Linked DNA regions of Homo sapiens: region 2 is reported to be linked to region 1. Evidence: microRNA targets listed by miRTarBase, many of them from high-throughput screens and not tested one by one. Region 1 holds a microRNA gene; the other region holds the end of a gene's coding sequence.

Region 1 (5,075 bases):
ACGTCTGGAATGCAAGTATTGCTAAATATGTTAGACCTCCAGGTTAAAGATGATTCAGCTTTAAGATGTTACCCTTTCAGAGGTACAGAAGAAAACCATTTCCAAAAAAGGTCCTTTCAGTGGTAGACTTGGGGGTAACTTGGTGGCCCCTTTGAGATATCAGGTTTCTTTTTTATCTAGAAATGGCTGCAAGTGGAAGCTGATAATATGTAGGCACTTTGTAAATTCATATTGAGTAAATGAAAGAAATTGTGATTTCCTGAGAATTGAACCTTGTTTATCTAACCCTAATTGATGAGAAGCTCACTACTTGATGGTGTGTACAAACTCACCTGAATGGGATTTTTTTTAGACATATCTTCATGACCTGTTCCCACCCCAGTTCATCGTCACCTCTTTTACACCAAAACGTCTGCAGAGTGGTGTGGTCACGATTCTTTTGTGCCATTTTGGGGTGGAGAGGGTGGACGTGATAAAGCCAATAATTCAGGACTTATTCCTTCTTGCGTTGTGTTTTTTTGCCCTTGCACCAGAGTATGAAATAGCTTCCAGGAGCTCCACCTATAAGCTTAGAAGTGTCTGTATGATTGTAATCACATGGTGACAACACTCAGAATCTAAATTGGACTTCTGTTGTATTCTCACCACTCAATTTGTTTTTTAGCAGTTTAATGGGTACATTTTAGAGTCTTCCATTTTGTGTGGAATTAGATCCTCCCCTTCAAATGCTGTAATTAACATCACTTTAAAAAAACCTGAATAAAATATTGAAACCTCAAAAAACAAAAACAAAAACAAAACTACCTCAAAATAATAAAGGCCATATATGAAAAGGCCACAGTTAACAACATACTCAGTGGTGAAAAACTGAAAGCTTTCCTTCTAAGATCAGGAACAAGGCAAGGATATCTATTCTCATCACTTCTATTCAAGATGGTATCCAGGCCAATGTTAATGCTATCATATCTCCTTAAAGGATATAAAATCAAGCTATAACCCCATCAGCTTGGGTACATGTTCTCAAGACCTTCTGAGGCTGTGTCATGGGTCATGGTCTTCACATTTGGTGCAGAATAAATCTCTTCAAATACTTTGCAGTTTGGCTTTTTTCCCTCGACATCTTCATCTGTATCCTTTGTAACATCCTTTATAATAAACTGGCAAATGTGTTTCCCTGAGTTCTGTAAGCCACTCCAGAACTCAGTTGAACCCAAAGAGGGGGTCATGGGAACCACAACTTGAAGCCAGTTGGTAAGAAATTCTGGAGACCGGGGCTTGTGACTGGTCAAGGGGTGGGAGGCAGTCCTGGGGACTGAGTCCTCAACCTGTGGAATCTGACACTATCTCTAGGCACCTAGTGTCAGAACTGATTAGGAGGATACCCAGTTGGTGTCTGCTGCAGAACTGCTCACATAATGTTGGGGAGAAATCCCCACGTATTTGGTCACAGAAGTCTTCTGTTGTTGTAGTGGTATGAGAGCAGAGGAAAAACACAGTTTGAAAGTTTTTCCTAAAATGGCATCCAAATTGGAAAGGAAGAGGTAAAGTTATCTGTTCACAGACAACAAGATTTTATATGTAAAAAAATCCTAAAGATTCCACCCAATCTGTTATTCAGCAAAGTTGCAGGATACAAAATCGTCACACAAAAATCAGGTTAGGTCTGACAGAGACAGACAATAAATGAATAAGTTTTCCAATATTAAAACCTAAGGAGTATTATGAAGAAAAAAAACAGGTCCAGGAACAAGGTTATAATTTGGAATAAGATGGTTAGGGAAAGCCTTCTAGAGAAGGCCCTTTGAATAAAGACAAAGGAAGTGAAGAAGTGAGTCTTGCAGGTATCTGGAGTAGATTGTTCCAGCCATAGGAAAAAGCCAGTGCAAAGGCCCTATGATGAGGGTATGCACAGAATGTTAGAGTAGGGGTCCCCAACCCCTGGGCTGCAGGCCAGTAGCAATACATGGCCTGTCAGGAACCTGGCCGCACAGCAGGAGATGAGTGGCGGTTGAGCAAGCATTACCACCTGAGCTCCACCTCCTGTGAGATCAGCAATAGCATTAGAGTCTCACAGGACTGTGAAGACTATTGTGAACTGCACATGTGAGGGGTCTAGGTTACGCACTCCTTATGAGAATCTAATGCCTGATGATCTGAAGTCAAATGGTTTAATCCTGAAACCATCCCCCTCCAACACTGGCCCCCTAATCCCTGCTGCAGAAAAATGGTCTTCCACTAAACCAGTCCCTGGTGCCAAAAAGGGTGGGGACTGCTGTGTTAGAGAACTTAAAATGTTTCTGTCCTTTGCCTACTCTATTTAAGGTACAGGGTGTCTTAAATAGAATAGGCAAAGGACATAACCATTTAAGAAGCAATAAGACAAGGTTGTTCATGAGACAATCATAGCTTCTATTGGCGCCATTCATTGACTCTCTTAAAGTGAAATAGACAATTGGGAAGAGATAGCTATGGTCCACTTGGTAATTATTTGCTGTGAAATAAAGACTACTAATTAAGAGTTACGTGGTAGTTCAAAAAAAATAAGTATAGTTCTTTTTTCTTTTTTATTTAGACTTCTTTTTAAAGCAAGTTTAGGTTTACAGAAAAATGAACAAAAAATAGGGTTATCTCATACCTCTCACATGTATACAACTCTCCCACCCACTGCCCCCATTACTAACATCTTGCATTGAGTGGCACATTTGTTACAGCTGATGAGCCTATATTAATACACTATTATTAATGAAAGTCCATAGTTTACATTAGGGTTCACTCTTGTATTGAACATTCTATGGGTTTGACAAACATATAATGACATGTACCCACCACTGCGGTACCATTCAGAATAGTTTCACTGCCCTAAAAATCCCGTACTCTACCTATTCACCCTTCCCTCCCTCCCCACTCTCCTCCATACTCTGAACCCACGGCAACTAGTGATCTTTTCACTGCTTTGTTTTACTCTTTCCAGAATGTCAAATGATTAGACTCATACAGTATGCAGCCTTTTCAGATTGGCTTCTTTCACTTAGCATTATGCATTTAAGGTTCCTCCATGTCTTTTCATGGTCTAATAGCTCATTTCTTTTTAAAAATTTTAAATTATTGTAAACATAAAATTTACCATTTTAACCATTTTTGGTATTTAACTCAGTAGTGTTAACTATATGCTCCTTCCCCTGGCCCAAAACACAAGATTTTTCTTGACTCTTTACCGTAAATGGGATTCTGGGAGATAAAACCTACCAAAGTGGAAGGCCCTACTAAGACTGGGGAGGGGCCGGGTGTGGGGGCTCACGCCTGTAATCCCAGCACTGGGGGAGGCCGAGGCGGGTGGATCACAAGGTCAGGAGATCGAGACCATCCTGGCTAACATGGTGAAACCCCGTCTCTACTAAAAATAAAACAACAACAAAATTAGCTGGGCATGGTGGTGGGCGCCTGTAGTCCCAGTTACTCAGGAGGCTGAGGCAGGAGAATGGTGGAACTCAGGAGGCAGAACTTGCAGTGAGCCAAGATTGCGCTACTGCACTCCAGCCTGGGCGACACAGCGAGACTCCGTCTCAAAAAAAAAAAAAATACTGGGGAGGAGTTTTTGACTCCCTAGTCCACACTCAGCCTCAAGCAATTCATCCATTACCATTGAAGTGTTTCTACCAGTTTATGGCCCAAGCATCTTCTGTTATCTTGGTTATGATTCTCTGTATTCACCTGTCTCTCCAGTTTTGGGGATGGCAGTTTGAACTGGTACCTCAATCTCTGATGGATCTAGAACAGTCTTTGATTTTCAGTTTGGTCAGATTACTGTTATTGTTAAGGAGAGGAGTGATAACTTGCAGGTTCTTCACATGTTGAGGCTGAAACTGGAAGTTCAGTGATCTTTTAAAGAGATTTTAAAATTTAAAAAAAGTCTTTAAATTTACCCATATATTTAGCACTTCCAGGACTCTTCATTCCTTTATGGAGGTCCAAATTTCCATCTTATATAATTTTCCTTTCATGTGAAGTTCCTTTAAAATTTACTATAGTTCAGTTCAGTTGGCAATGAATTACCTGCTTTTGTTTATTTGGAAAAAGTTTTTATTTATTTATTTTTATTTTTTAGATGAAGTCTCACTCTGTGGCCCAGGCTGGAGTGCAGTGGTGCAATCTCAGCTCACTACAACCTCTGCCTCCTGGGTTCAAGTGATTCTCCTGCTTCAGTCTCCAGAGTAGCTGGGATTACAGATGCCCACCATGACACCCGACTAATTTTTGCATTTTTAGTAGAGATGGGGTTGCAATGTGTTGTTCAGCCTGGTCTCGAACTCCTGACCTCAAGTGATCTGCCCATCTCAGCCTCCCAAAGTATTGGGATTACAGGCATGAGCCACCAGATCCAGCCTTGAAAAGTCTTTATTTCACGTTTACTTCTTTTTGTATTGACATGAGATTCACATAAAATTAACCAGTTTAACATGTACAATTGAATGACATTTAATACATTCACAATATTGTGCAACCAACTGCATCTAGTTCCACAACATATTTGTTATTCCCCCCAAAAAGCCTTGAACCCACTAAGCAGTCACTCCCCATTCCCCTCTCCCCCAAACCTTTAGCCTTGAACCCACCAAGCAGTCACTCCCCATTCCCCTCTCCCCCAAACCTTTAGCCTTGAACCCACTAAGCAGTCACTCCCCATTCCCCTCTCCCCCAAAACCTTGGCAACACCAATCTGCTTTCTGTCTCTATGGATTTAACCATTCTGGATATTTCATATAAATTGAATCATACACTATGTAATCTTTCATGTCTGGCCTCTCACTTGGTTTAATGTTTTCAAGGCTCATCTATATTATAGCATGTATCGGTTCTTCATTCCTTTTTATGATTAATAGTCTATTATATGTATACAACAATGCCAAATTTTGCTTATCCACTCATCAGTTAATGGACATTTGGGTTGTTTGCACTTTTGGCTATTGTGAATACTGCTGCTATGATCATTTGTATACAGGTATTTGAGTACCAAATTACCCAGCAATTCCACTCCTGTATATACCCAAAAGAATTGGTAATTCTATTTTTAACTT
Region 2 (5,075 bases), not on the chromosome of region 1:
CCCAGCGACTTGCCACATGGCTTGGGGGGCTCAGTAAATATTTGCTGATGTAAACTGTTTACCAAGTACTAACAGACATTTTGGTAGTAATGTTCCTTTTTCCACAAGACACGTCTGCTTATAGTGTTTGTGTTTTTCATGCGGCTCTGGCAGTTGCACATAGGAAAGGAGATGAAAGGTAAGACATTCTATCCTTATTCCTCTATTACTTGGTCCCTGAAATGGGCACTTCCGGATGATCTCCCCATGTTTCCTGTCTTACTTGAAAGCATATATAAAAAGTTGGATTTATTTGCTATCACTGATCATGGGGCATCTCCTGTTTTTTACCTCCAGGGGACCAATGAGAATAGGGAAAATTCTCCTGCTGGTAGAGCCCAGCCTGTCCCATGTGAGACTCACTCTGACCCATCTAGAAACCAGCCATCCCCTGACGCAGCAGCATCTCAGACGCAGACCAGCCCCGCTCACCCCAGTGTGGACCCGTGCACAGAGGAGAGTGAAGAGCAGCAGGCTCAGCTGGCCGCGGGAGGACACTGAGGGCATCCTGCTCATCTCACACCCTGCATGGAATCAGGCTCCTCAGCCAGGACACAGGGTGAGGCCCCCCAGCCAGGATATGCCTCCCCTGGAGGAGCACAGCACTGCATATGCTTCTAAATATCTAAACTCATTAACATGGAAACACACACACAGGAGCTACAGTACATATTGGCAGGAAAAGGTAAACTTTCGTAATCTCATTGGAATTACAACAGGGAAATGGAGTTCAATGAGGACTTTCAGTTCTTTGCTTGGTTAGGTTAAGGATGATAGAATTTCTCTGCCAGTGCAGTAAGAGTTGAAACCGGCAGTTACACTAAGTAAGTGGAGGGAATGAAAGTGTTTCGAGGTGAATGTGGATATAATTTCCCTCTTCTGATTATTTATTCTTATTTGGTTCCTAACACAAACTGGGAAGAGATAGAATTCATCTATACTTTCTTTTTTCTTGGAGAGAACCGTTTAAAAAATTACAAGATATATTTAAAAAGTAACCAGATAAAAGTAGCACATGTGCTTTTGTTAAAAATAAAGTTAAAAGTTAAAGTTAAAAAATGAAGTTAAAAGTTTCATCAGAAACTTTACATATCTTTAGCAAATATATTTTTATATGTGTATGGCATATAATGGAAATAATTCTTTGAGCAACAGAAGCTATTATTAACTACTGCAAGCTAAGCCGAGCTTAAAAATGCCTTTTGTTTTAAATGGGCTTTGAGAAAAAAAACAGAAACAAGCGATTATTTCAAATCAACCAACCAACTCAGTATCCTGTGTTTTGATAGACAAGAGTTTACTAAATATATTGATACTGTAAATAGCCTCTCTCGCTATTTACTATCTTATAGTAATTCAGGCTCTAATTAGCTGAGGGAATGAAACACACAAAAATCACTGAATTCCTAAGAGTTCCTTAAATAAGCAGTACTAGTTACAAATCACAGTATAAGATTTAAGTGCCTGGGGGAAGGATACAATTTTTAGAAATTACATATTGGGTCAGTTTTGTTTTGTTTTTGGTGAGGAAAAGGTGGTAAATAGGAAACCATGAATGGGAAGGATGGCAATAAGTAGCAACTATACTTTCCAATGACTAAAGAAAGAAAATCTCAGTATATTCGTTCTCATGAAGACACAGTCAGACACTGGACAATGTAATGTATGCAACTGCAAACGTTACAACTGCAGCCAGAACAATGGCTGGGTGGATCGCACGTAAAGCTTGCCACTAAAAATCAAAGCAGAGGTTAACAGGAAACCTGGGGGGAGTGTGGAAAAGGGAAAACTGTTTTAGCTGAATAAAGGTGAATTATATAATTTATAATAGCTGTGGATGAGCACAGGAGAGAGAGGAAAGAAAAGAACAGTCGAAATGAGCAACTCACCTTACCCTCTGACCCTGATTAGACAGGATCAATTGTAAAGTGAGGGCTTCTCCATGACACCATAGTTCTGCCCAATACTGCATTTGGGATAAGAAATTCTACACTTGGATGTCTCGCTTCACAATAAAACACAGCTTAAAAATAAAATAACTGAAAGAAATAGAATTCAGCAAATAGTTATTTTTTGCACTTGAACTGAAACGTACTGTACTGTAAATTATGACTCATTTTAAGTGACCTTTAAAATCAGATGTATTTATTATGCTTGTGTAATTATAGAAATAAAGAAATGGGTGACAGGCTTAACCTCACCTATGAATGTACAGTATGTGGATTTGTGAAACTGACTGTAGGAAGTCAAAAACTTGTACTGTATCTTGTGTTTACAGTTCTGATTTATTCCTTTGAAAAGCCTGCTGTTTTGGAAATGCACAGTTGACATGTTGAAATAAAAATGAATACCATTTTTAAATGTTTCTTAAATGATAAAGATGTGACCAAACAAAAGTCCTATACTCTAATGAATGAGACCAAATTCAACATGCCTTTGTTATGGAACATTTACTGTGACAGCAGAATCGATAATGCAGTCATTTCCAGCCTTGTGAGCTGACACCTTCATGGGTTTGTGGACTTTGTGACTTTTTCTTCCTGTCCCCAAAGTGCCATATGCTACCTTAAAAAATATTAAAGTGAATTCAAATTACATTTTGATTTGAGATTTTGTAACCCCTCTTGAGATCCCTCAACACACACAGGGGTGTCACAGAGCCCAGGCTGGTAATCACTGCCTTAATGACTTACTTCCTACTCTTTCTCCTATGGTTGTAGAAACAGTAAATTACCGAGTGCTGAGCTTGTGTGGATCCAAAGTGGTTAACTGCTAATTATTGAACTATTCCTCAAGTTTTAGGAATAGATTATAATACATACATTGTCCAGCAGGCAGTAAACCTCATGAAAAGTGTTAAGGAATTCACAGGAAGAGCAACCCTGCTTTACTGGCTTATTAATCCTGCCATGGGTCACATGAAGTGGATAGCTGGCTAATAGCTTCCCTCTAATTGGCAATTCCTTCCAGTACTGCTGAGGTACTGAGACCATTACTTAGGCAATATTCCTCTCTGCCAATTTGGAGTTCAGCAGGGAATCTAGGAAAAGGGAACCACATCCGTGGATATTGGGTGCTTGTAGTGTGCTGATGAGATTATCATTTTGCCCTTAACAAAAACTGGAGGTGTTCCTATCACTATCCCCATTTTAAACAAGAGAATTCTGAAGCTAACAGTTTAAGTTATGAGATCAAGGTCACAAAGCCAGGATTCAAACTCAAATCTTCCTAATGTCAAAGCCCTGGTCCGCTTAGCACCTTACCCCACCCCAGGAGGCAGGGAGGCCATTCCCTGCATCTGTTATGGCAGAGGAAGCCATAAAGCAGCCCAGCCTGAACCATTACCATACATGCCTGATATGTGTATGTGTGTGGTTGTATTTCCATTTAGGATTTCTAGATATTCCTAGATTCCTAGAAATGCTTCAAATTCCTGATGCTTTGTGAAATGTAGGTACACCAGACCCTTTACACTCTGCAGGTGAGTTGGCTGGACTGATAACTGCACAGGAAACCCAGAGGTTGGTAGGGACTCTGGCCAGGGCCATGGAAATCAGGAAGGGAAAGCAGACACACCCACAGCTCTGTACTGTCCGGTAGGACTTACTGGGAAGATGGGAAGTTCTCTATTTACACTGTCCAGGATGGTAACCATAAGCCATATGTGGCTATTAAACAACTGACATGTGGCTAATTTTCTGGGGAATTAGGTTTCTAATTAATTTTAAATAGCCACACGTGGCTCAAGGCTACCATACTGGACAGCACGGGTATACAGGAAGAGATCCTTTCGGGAGATCTCTGGGCCTGTTTCCTCAGCTTCAGTGTGAGAGGTTAGAGCTTAAGGTTATGTTGATTCTATGAAAATGAAGGTATGCTTTGACAGTGACTGTAGGGAAGAAAGAGGTGATTTTCCATTTGGAAGTTCTTCAGCCCTTTGGAGCATGGAGACAAGACAAAGGCTACTTCTGAAGCCCCAAACCACTCCTGGGCTTGTTTAGCAAAGCCTTGAGAATATCTGGCTTAAGAATTCCAAACCATGGGGCAGTTGGGAGAGAGGCTGGTGCCTAGGTGGGGACAGAAAAGGGGTGAAAGGGGGAGTGGTTTGTCAGATCTCAGAAAGTAATTTACACTATGCCAGGACAAACTGTGGCTTCTTATAAGGGAGTAACTGGAAACTTGCTGATGTCTAACATGGGGGGAAAGTGAGCCAGTCCGGCTAAGTGCCAGTCCAGCTGTGTACCTAACTCTCAACCAGCTGCCATCTGCTTCAAGCAGCTAATATAGGACCACTTGTCCCCCACTGTGGCTCCAGGAAAGTCCCAGTTTTTAGATGGCAACCCAAGGACCTTACAATGTTGGGGTTAGGAGTGTGCGCCCTGGAGTCACACTGTTTGCATTTGAGTCCCAGCTCTGCCAGTGAGAACTTACACACACATAGAACATCTCTGGGCCTCAGGACCCACCTCTGTAAAACGGAAGTGATTACAGTAGGTATGTAACAGGTTGATGTTTAAAATGAGTTATCTGACATACAGTGTGTGCTCCATAAATACTGCCATTGTTGTGCAGCAAAGAGCCCGGGGCAGGAGGAGCGCTGTCTCATTTCCCCAACCAGGGTCTAGTTCTATTATTTTATTGCCATTTAAATCTATAATCATATTCCATTCTCCCAATCTACAGTGCCATACTATACATATTTACCTATATCTAGTAAGCTGTACAGTAAGGCATTCAATTCCAACATGCATTGTAAACATTAAGTGGTTGGGGATATGAGTTAGTTAAGAGACAAAATTAAGCAAAACTTAAGTTGAAGAGGATGGAAAAAAGTGATGATGGTGACAATTCCATAAAGTGCAAAAGTCTGCTGAGAGAGGTTATAAGTTTCATAATTTTCATTTTTCTTTTTCTTCTTAAAGGTGTCAACAAAAGTAAACAATTTTATAATCATTTAACAAATTATATACCATACTCTCTCCAATAGTCAGTGTAGGATGCTATTCTTTTAAATTGTAAACTTACATTTGAAAAAA

The links. Region 1 holds the annotated microRNA hsa-miR-3121-3p (UAAAUAGAGUAGGCAAAGGACA, at 2,299-2,320, opposite strand). A microRNA usually pairs through its seed, bases 2 to 8, with sites in the 3' UTR of a target mRNA and lowers its output. Matches are read on the target gene's strand: a 7mer-m8 pairs with bases 2 to 8, a 7mer-A1 pairs with bases 2 to 7 and ends in A, and an 8mer does both.
Region 2: miRTarBase lists MFSD6 as a target of hsa-miR-3121-3p. Seed matches in the 3' UTR shown: 7mer-A1 at 1,374-1,380.

Annotation. Positions count from the first base shown.
Region 1 is chr1:180,436,025-180,441,099 of GRCh38, forward strand. MIR3121 (microRNA 3121) reads right to left here and starts at 2,366; the gene lies at 2,290-2,366. The region is part of intron 3 of ACBD6 (acyl-CoA binding domain containing 6); the gene reads right to left. It also overlaps the pseudogene VDAC1P4.
Region 2 is chr2:190,499,679-190,504,753 of GRCh38, forward strand. It overlaps MFSD6 (major facilitator superfamily domain containing 6), which reads left to right. Exons shown (of 8, transcript NM_017694.4): 8 at 337-2,636. The coding sequence ends at 540. NEMP2 (nuclear envelope integral membrane protein 2) reads right to left here. Exons shown (of 9, transcript NM_001142645.2): 9 at 4,660-5,075. Among named protein-coding and RNA genes, the nearest start is that of NEMP2, 33 kb to the right of the region's middle.